3 linked regions of the Homo sapiens genome follow. Changing the gene in region 2 together with the main gene of any one other region gives a genetic interaction. Each region holds a gene or a part of one and is shown on either strand. Other genes may lie near its edges.

Evidence for each region.
Region 1: changes in POLM (region 2) and PTTG1 impair growth when combined (synthetic growth defect), as found in Homo sapiens cells (one large-scale study listed by BioGRID).
Region 3: changes in POLM (region 2) and PTEN impair growth when combined (synthetic growth defect), as found in Homo sapiens cells (one large-scale study listed by BioGRID).

What each region holds. Positions count from the first base shown.
Region 1 is NC_000005.10:160,424,812-160,427,161, reverse strand, and holds part of PTTG1 (securin), read right to left. Parts: intron 1-2,350. UniProt on the Homo sapiens protein: Regulatory protein, which plays a central role in chromosome stability, in the p53/TP53 pathway, and DNA repair. Probably acts by blocking the action of key proteins.
Region 2 is NC_000007.14:44,075,874-44,079,531, forward strand, and holds part of POLM (DNA-directed DNA/RNA polymerase mu), read right to left. Parts: intron 2,939-3,658; coding exon 2,867-2,938; intron 757-2,866; coding exon 636-756; intron 1-635. UniProt on the Homo sapiens protein: Gap-filling polymerase involved in repair of DNA double-strand breaks by non-homologous end joining (NHEJ). Participates in immunoglobulin (Ig) light chain gene rearrangement in V(D)J recombination.
Region 3 is NC_000010.11:87,933,125-87,936,782, forward strand, and holds part of PTEN (phosphatidylinositol 3,4,5-trisphosphate 3-phosphatase and dual-specificity protein phosphatase PTEN), read left to right. Parts: coding exon 1-127; intron 128-3,658. UniProt on the Homo sapiens protein: Dual-specificity protein phosphatase, dephosphorylating tyrosine-, serine- and threonine-phosphorylated proteins.

The sequences.
Region 1 (2,350 bases), on a different chromosome or scaffold from region 2:
TTTCTTAAAGGAATGAAAGAAGTCTATCACCTCAAGGAAAACTGACAGCCTTTGTTGCCAATGGCAGAATATAAAACGTTAAAATTTTGTCAAAAATTAAAAAATGAATATTTTTTTTTTGAGACAGAGTCTCACTCTTTCACCTAGGCTGCAGTGCAGTGGCACAATCTCCGTTCACTGCAACCTCTGCCTCCTGGGTTCAAGCGATTCTCCTGCCTCAGTCTCCCAAGCAGCTGGGATTACAGGTGCGCCCACCACACCCGGATAATTTTTGTATTTTTAGTACAGACGGGGTTTCACCATGTTGGCCAGGCTGGTCTTGAACTCGTGACCTCAGGTGATCCGCCCGCCTTGCCTCCCAAAGTGCTGGGATTACAGGCGTGAGCCACTGCATCTGGCCAAAAAAAGGAATTTTGGAAAACTTATCTGCAGTCATTAGCTTGACAGGTGCTTAGACTTTTCTGATGAGATCAGTTGTGGTATTAATGTGCTTTTGATATTGTATAATAAAGCATCTCAACATGTGGGTATCTACATATCTCAGTGAACCAGTATTTCTGAATGGTCAATGCAAGATAGATGCAAGAATATAAGATACATTCCAAGTGCAAAATAGACCAATGGATTTTACTGTCAAGATACAAAATGCTCATTGATACGGTTTCAGATTCCACATTGCAATTTTATATTCAGAAACAGCCACTTGTGGGTTTTAGTGTAGTGGCAAAAAAACCTATCCACACTTATCTGAAAAGACTATTAAAAACGTATCTGTGTGAAGCCAGGTTTTCTTCGTATATTTTAACAGATGTAAGAGTGAATATAGAATTTGATAAGAATCCAGTTGTCTTGTATTAAGCCAAATAAAGCAAATTTTCAAAAATATAAACCATGCCATTCTTCTCCAAACTTTTCCAGAACAAAAAATATTTTATGTTAAAAAAAAATTTACATTAATGTAATGTGATTACTTAGTGAATAAATATCTTAAGTTTCTCAGTCTTAATTTCTAATACAGAAAAGAGCAGATCACACAAGCAAAAGTGGTCTTCAATAATTTCTAAGAGTGTAAAAGGGTCTTTAAAACAAAACAAAAAAAAATGGAGAACCATTGTGTTAGGTAACATTCATTCTTAAAATCCAAGTACCTTACTTCTTAGCAATTATTTTTAAAAAGTGATTTTTCTGTACAGTAACAAAAGTAGGATTTAACACTGAATTTTCTTCAAGGAGCTGTTTTCTCAAAAGATTAGAAAATCATGGTTTTCCTTATCTTTGTCCGTAGGTGTGAAAGTTCTCTAAAGCCTAAGTACTCAAGAATTAGTCTGCTCTTTTACAAGCCTGGTAAAACCCAGAAGTCAAAAAGGAATTGAATGATATGTGACTATTTAACTTAAAACCACTGAATTGTAAAGGAAACCATAGACAGAAGACTCCAGAGGAAAGAAGTTTGCAATATAAGGGGAGCTAATTTTATCTACAAAGAGCTCTTTAATCAAAGAAAAACACAAACCGGAAGTTAATAAAAAAAGAAAAACTGTAAGTGGCCAATAATCAAATATGTTCACCATACACACAACAAATTTAAAACAATGAAATATTTCTTTTCTGATAAAGATTAGAGTTTTAAAACATTGATAGTGAACCTGGAGGAAGCAGACATCTTCATCCACTGTAGACGGATTTAACAATTTACACTATTTTGAAGGGCCACTTAGCAATATCTCTTTCCTGTAACACAGGATATTGTGGTCTTCATTCTTCATCAATATGCATAAATCTACCTCATTTTCCTCAATGGCTGAATGGTAATTATTAGCACGGATGCACCACATTTTATAATTTTAAAACTTAATCACACAAGCCCTTGAACTCAGCAATCCTTCTCAAAGTTTCCCTCCAGATGTACTCACAAACTTACAACAAGATCATTTCAAGAATACTAATCATAGAAATGTTTGTAGTTTCTAAAAGCCAGAACAATCTGAATGCAAATTAGTAAAATAACTACATGACCTCTTTGGCTAAATAAAAGGGTAAAAGATCCAGCTCAGAAATCCGTAAGGCCCTCCCTGATCTGATCCCACACCTCACCTGTATCCTCCTTTACCCTGCCTGTATTTTTCCTAGAACCACTTTAGTCTCTTTTCCTACCTCACGATCTTTGCACCACTTTGACCTACAATGCTGTTTTTTCTGGCTCACTCACAGTGAGATGACTTGTCCAGCATCTGACTTTCCCTTCAAATTATGGGCTCCCATAGGCAGGGCCCATCTTGTTAAACAGTGTGTCCAGGACCTAAGGATGCCTGACACACAGTAGCTTCTCCTGAAATGGTTGAGTAAATTA
Region 2 (3,658 bases):
TACTACGGGCATCCACCATCACGCCTGGCTAACTCTTGTATTTCTCGTAGAGACAGGGTTTCACCCTGTTGCCCAGACTGGTCTTGAACTGCTGAGCTCAAGCGATCTACCCACCTTGACCTCCCAAAGTGCTGGGATTACAGGTGTGAGTCACCATGCCCAGCCTTCCTTCTCCATTTTACAGAAAATGTAACAGACTCAGAGAGGTTATTTCTTGGGCAATGGTCACCTACCTGGCAAATGGTAGATAAGACTCAAACCCAGGCCTAACAAACTTGAAAGCTGATGTTCTTTCTGCTGCTCAGTGCCACCTCTGCAGGCCTCCATGTACCAAGCACCACACTGGGCAGTGTGCCCAAGGCCCAGGCTGTCCCTGGTCACTGGTCAAAGTCTAACCAGTAGGCAGACACAAGCCCCTGGCATATCATGGAAGTTGCTGTGGTCAGCATCGTCCACTGAGAAAAGGCTTTGATAGATCCTGACTGCACTGGGTGGAGACCCCAGGAAGCCCACCACACAAAGCTGCCACCAAACCCTCTGCACCAGACTGCTCCCTTCCCTCTAGGGAGTTGATGCTGAGGGATCCAGGGTGCAGTTTAGGGAAGCCCAGGGCCCAGCCTCTCTGGAGGGCTCACCCGCTTTCTGCTGTTGGGTTAGTTTCTGGGGCTGCTCTCGGAGGTCATCTAAGGTTCGCAGTCCTTCCCGGTACCACCGGTCAGCAGTCTTCACACCGACCCCGAAGATCTGGGTGAAGAGCTGTGGGGAAGGAGCGTAGCCCGGTTGGGCAGAGCTCTCATGGCTAGACTCGGATGATCACCCGCTCCGGGACGGTGTGGCCCATGGAGCACCATGCACCAGGCAGGCGCCGTCCCCACTCGCAACCTGCCGTAGACCACAGGGCAAGGATTCAAACCTGGAGCCTGACTACCCAGCCTGCCGTCTCTGGGAACAAACCCACGCACACCCCTCTCCTCTCCTCTATGAAAGGGACTTACACAGCTCTAGCCTGTGATTCCAACATAATCAAAACAGTCACCCTAACACATCAGCACGAGGGGCTCCTAAGTCACTGGAAAAACCATGCCTCTCCCACCTAACAGAAGGTGGAACAAATTTCTGTGGTTCTCCTCCTTAGCCAACAGCAAAAAACAATGAGGAGTTAACAATCAAAAGGGTGGATTTAGGAGCAGAGTTGGCAGGGCTGGCTGGGGTGCTCACATATCTTCCCACAGAGGGTGGGCCCCAGCCCAAGCAAGTCACCTGCTTCAGGTCAGCCACTAGAGTCCCTCCCTAGGAATTCTGGATCTGAGACTGAGGGCAGGCCCACACAGTGGCAGAAGCTGTAGCCTGTGGCAGCCGAGCACCTTTTGTGGCCACATTTCCAACCGATGGAAGAAGCTGGTGCGTCGCAAGAGAGGGCGAAGCCACCGTGCAGAGGGGCAGAGGGGAGGAGGAGTGGCCTGGTGATACCCAGGTCGCTGAGCCCAGTTGTCCTGCAGACCGGCCACAGCCCTCCCCATCCTGGGCTCTGCTGGCCCTCCTTTCCTTTATTTTGTGAACCAACGGTGTGGGGTGGGTCACTGTCACTTGCAACCCAAAGAATCCTGACTAAAAATGATGAGATTAACCCAATTATATTGTTAATAAACTTCTCATTACTAATGTAATTTTCTGCCAGCCTAGATGCCTTCAGGGCTGGGGCTGAGGCTGACAGTGAAAGTACTCACTAACCTCACACCACTTCAAGGGGATTTCATCATCTTCAGGCCCCTCACTCCCACACTCACCACGGTGGCCCCACTCATCTGGTCCCCTGTCCCTGCCAGTGCCCCTTGCCCCCTTCCCTGCATATTTGAGCCCATTTGCCCTGCACACACTGCTCAAGTCTCTCCTCTTCGAAGCCCTCCCTGTCAATCCTGACAACATTCTGTGTGACCTCCCAAGGCCCCATCCACCCAGGAAGCCACACTTCACTGACAGTTATCCATGTGGCCACCGCTGTGACACCTCCAGCCACAAAGCCAGTTGGCAGAAGGGTGTCAAAGCAGGCACACCCGAGGCATCCAAAAGAACTCAGACGGCATTTCCCTATCAGACCAGGAGTGAGCAGAAACAGAGGGAAGGTGGCCATGGAAACAGGCAGGCTGACAACACTGAGAAAATAACACATAAGGTCCTGCAGAAGGCGGGCAAGGGCAAGCCCAGCATGCTCAGTGGCAGCACCCAAGGGTACATTTGGTTCACAGTGCTCTGTTTAAGATGCCACAGCATGTAATCTACTTGAGAATATTCCATCAAAAACAGTCAAGGCAGAGCGAAGTGGCTCATGCCTATAATCCCAGCATTTTGGGGACCAAGGCAGGAGAATCATTTGAGCATAGGGGTTTGAGACCAGCTTAGGCAACATTACCAAGACCCCATCTTTACGAGAAAGATTTAAAAATTAACCTGGTGTGGTGGCACATGCCTGTAGTCCCAGCTACTCCAGAGACTGAGGTGGGAGGATGGTTTGAGCCCAGGAAGTCAAGGCTGCCGTGAGCTGTGATCGCACCACTGTACTCCAGCCTGGGCGACAGAGCGAGACCCTGTCTCAAAAACAAAATAAAACAAAAAGCCCCAAAAGCCAGATGGTGCTGAGTGATCTAGAAAATTCTGTCCTCAAAACAAGCTTCTTCCTTGCCTGTCTCCACTTGGCTGCCTTGTGCATATCAGGTATCAGCTTAGCTGCCACTTCCTCGGCAAGACCTTCTCTGACCCCTGGGCTGGGTCAGCTGCCCCTGTTTGCCTCCCCGTGCATGGTGTGGACTGTGTTGTCATTCCCAGGGCAGGACATTCCTGGGGTAGGTCCGAGCCCTGCCCTGCGCACCTTCATGGTCTGGTACCTCTCTGAGCGCCGAACTCTCTCCACCTCCTCACACACTCCATGCTCCAGCAGCTCCTGGGGGAGGGAACAAAGCAGAACTCTAAGCCTGAGGGCGTGGGAAGAAAGAGAAGGGCGGGGAGTTAGGGTCAGGGCTGGGGGCCCAAGGACTGAGGCAGTCCCCTCCAACACCCGGCAGAGACAACTTTGTGAGGTCAGGGTCCAGTAGGACCTGGAAATGGAGACTGTGCCCAGGGAGGTGACCAAAGTTGCTGCCACACAGCTGGGAGGTCAGGGCTCCAGCCTCAAAGCTCCTTCGGGCCTGGAGTTACAGCAGCTGAGATGCCAGGTAACGTGGATCATCTCTCAGTCAAATAAGTCCCAAGATACATAAACAATTGCTTTTCAGAACATGTGAACTCAATACTACTTCATTTAAAAGCATCTTCTGTCACTGTGTATTCTTGCAATGAAAGTGCACTAAAGGACAACTAAACACACTGGGGCACTGAAAAGAGATGCTCACACTCAGGGTGCTCTCTTTCATTCCACTGTGGAGGGCAGTTTGGGACTAATGACAATGACAACAGTGTCACCCCTAGCCCTGCCAGGCCCCTCACAGCGCCATTCACTGGGTCCTCTAGGCCACCCAGGAGTAAATGGCTAGTGTGCACAGGAGGAATCTGAGCGCAGAGGGTGGCTTGTTGAGGCCTTGGAGCAGTGTCAGCACCCACGACTGTCTGTCCTCACCCACCCCCACAGCACCCTCTGCTGTCTCACCAGGCCCCAAGGCCTCCC
Region 3 (3,658 bases), on a different chromosome or scaffold from region 2:
TCACTGTAAAGCTGGAAAGGGACGAACTGGTGTAATGATATGTGCATATTTATTACATCGGGGCAAATTTTTAAAGGCACAAGAGGCCCTAGATTTCTATGGGGAAGTAAGGACCAGAGACAAAAAGGTAAGTTATTTTTTGATGTTTTTCCTTTCCTCTTCCTGGATCTGAGAATTTATTGGAAAACAGATTTTGGGTTTCTTTTTTTCCTTCAGTTTTATTGAGGTGTAATTGACAAGTAAAAATTATATATAAATACAATGTATAATATGATGTTTTGATGTATGTGTATATACATTGTGAAATGATTACTACAGTCAAACTACTTAACATATTCATCACCTCACATAATTATTATTCTCCCCCCAGGGTGAAAGCATTTAAGATCTACAAGCTACAATTTTCAATTATACAATGTTATTATTAACTATAGTCACTATGCTGTCCAGTAGAGCTTCAGATCTTGTTCATCTTGTGTTCCTCCCTCCCCACCCTCAGTCCCTGGAAAACAGGTTTTAAAGATAGTTGCTAATCCTTATTTCTTCTAAATTTTTAAATCAGTTGCTGCCTCAATTTCTATATGAGAAATGACTGATTGATTTCATTTTTCTGTTCACGCTACCATTTTCATATCATACTAGCACATGTTACCCATTAACTGTATTGCAGATTTGGTCTCACAAAATTCTTCTAAAATAACATTTTTAAAAAGCATATTAATCAAAAATAAGCTTTATATTTCTGAAGCTTGTTTGAGCATAGAATGCCTTTGGATAAAATACCATTACCTAGTAAAGTGTGAACTTTTATAATCCATAAAAATTATTCTTTTATAAGAATATTCATAAATGTAGTTAGATTAATAGAAGATTCTCGATTCTTTGATCAGAAAACTAAGGACTATATTGAAAAATCAGTGACAAATTTAATTCTTATAGTACATCTGAAAGAAAAAAGAAAACTCTTGGGAGAACTTTTACAGTGATTTAATTTTGCTGTTGATATATTTCTTTGGGTGGTAAGTATGGCAAAACATGTTAAAATTTAATGCAAAGAGATTTTGTACATTTTTCCATCTCTAAGAAGGACAAAGCCTAAGCCCCTCCAGATAGATAGAAAAACTCATTTAGAGAGTTCTCCTTCATGTTAATCTAATTTCTTCTTAATTCAGCTGTAAAACAGAAATAGAATGATCGTATTAATCATTTAAAGCTGTGTAATTGCATAGATTCCTTGTTCCTTTACCCCCTCTTATATCTTGTTTCCTATCCTTTGTGACTTTTTTTGCATTATATATAAGGATGCCGAAATACTGTTTATTGTTGATAGTTTACAAAATTGAATCTTACATTAGTGCATAATTTTGGTGAATGTTGAAGATTATGGTAGATTGCCTTACATTTCTGCATATTGTTTGCACCTTGGAATGATAGCACTGGCATGAATTATAGAGCTGAGGATCTAAAGATTTTTACTTTGATTTATCCCATTATCATCTGCAGGGAAACAATTGCTTTTACTGATTAAAAATGCAGGCTGGGCACAGCGGCTCACGCCTGTAATCCCAGTACTTTGGGAGGCCGAGGCGGGCGGATCACAAGGTCAAGAGATCGAGACCATCCTGGCCAACCAACATGGTGAAACCTCATCTCTACTAAAAATACAAAAATTAGCTGGGTGTGGTGGCGCGTGCCTGTAATCCCAGCTACTCAGGATGCTGAGGCAGGAGAATCGCTTGAACCCGGGAGGTGGAGGTTGCAGTGAGCCGAGACTGTGCCACTGCACTCCAGCCTGGTGATAGAGGGAGACTCCATCTCAAAAAAAAAAAAAAATGCAGTAGCAAAAGCGATGGTAGAAATTTAAAACAGAGTTGATGAGCAGCATATATTTTGGTAGTGGAAAAAAAGGTAAAAAATTTTTTGTAATAAAATAGAAAAATTTTGTAATGTGGAGGCGCAGAACACTAGATTTAAGCCAGGGGGTCTTAAATTGTGTTACATTCCTTTTAAAGTCTGATGGAAGGTATAAATGTTCTCCCCTCAAAAAATGTGCATAGTGTACATAAAATTTTGCAGTTTTTATTACATTGAAATATATTCTTTTAGACAGAATGTAAAAGAACCTTCATGAAAACTATGTCACTTTTTTATGCAAAAACCAGTGGCTACTACATGAGAGCAATGAATAAATCTAAGTGGTACAAATTAACCAAAATTAAGCTTTAGTTCTGTTCAATACTAAATTTTAATGAAAAGACTGCTATTTAACTTTTAAAATAACAAGTTGAAACTATGCTCTTTGACTTTGACTTTGCAACTTTTATATGATCTTTGATATCCAATCAGTGTTGACTTTGGTAAAAAGTGCTGAAAATGCTATTTTACAAAAGAAAGAAGAGTAAATGGAATCTGTAGATTCTATTGCCTGATGAAAGTAGACGTGTCAAGAAATAAGAATTCTCCAAGGCTCTTCAGATAAATTCATGTTTCATCATTTTCTTTGCCTTCAAGTTACTGAGATCATTTTTGGCAAGATCTGTATCATTAATGCTGTGTTAGGAAAGAAAAGATTATGACTCCACATTTTACTTTCAAGGTTGAAGAGTTAAACTGTTTAAAAAGAGTGTATGTTATCCTGTAAACAGCAGTATCAGGCTGTAGAATTTGTCTTCTGAAAGCAGGGAACTTATATATAGCAAAGAACTTCATAGTGCTCCCATTTCTTGACAAAACCTCTCGAGAAGCTCTTGATTGAAAGTCTTGGCTTTCATGAATCTGGCAGCTTTCACAATAGTGGATTTTTCATGACAAATCATCTTACACAGGGAATTATTCAAGGGTTGGCACTTGAAACAGTAGAATACTTTCACAACAAGAGATAAGATTTCTTTCAGGATTGATGACAGTCTTGCACCCTAGCGCATACTGATGAAGAGAGCAGTGGGTGACCATGACATGGAGAGCTTCTGTCTTTACCAGTGCCCCAATATCAGATGTGTTGTCTGGCAGTAAGGTGTACTGTCTGCCTACAGAATACTGAGGTTTCTTCAGGAGAAGTTTTTTGGTAAAGAAACTTTACCATTTTGAAAGTGTTAATGTTTTCTGAAGCTTCCAAAAAGATTCCAAAATGGGAATGTTTCCTTGATTGTGTCACCATGCTTGCATTTGATGAAAACTTGTAGCCGGCTATACTGAGAAATCATATCTGAAGAAAGGTGGTACTTCCAATCTTTTTGTGACCTACTTTATTATTGTTTTTTTAATGTCAGGGTTTTTTTTGGAATGGAGAAAAGTATTTGATAGAGGTATTGCAACAGTCTTATTCTTCTTCATGCTACAAGTATATTTGACTCTTTCTAAGATACTTGCCTTCACTGTTCAACTGTGTGACTTTTTGTTTGTTTAGCATTACAATCAATATCCTAGTAGGATGATTTAATCAATGATTTTTAATTGGAACAAATAGTTTTTGTAATGGTCTAGGCTTTTCCAACTTAACTGTGCTCTCACATGTGGTCTCTTTTTCTCCCTCTTTCCTCCTTCTTATACACTCTCACCCACACACATATGCATACATACCCTGTCTGATGTATCTGCTTCTTCAGAATAGTTGGCTGTGCTCTGCTGATGATGAGAACTTGCCATTTAAGAAGGACTT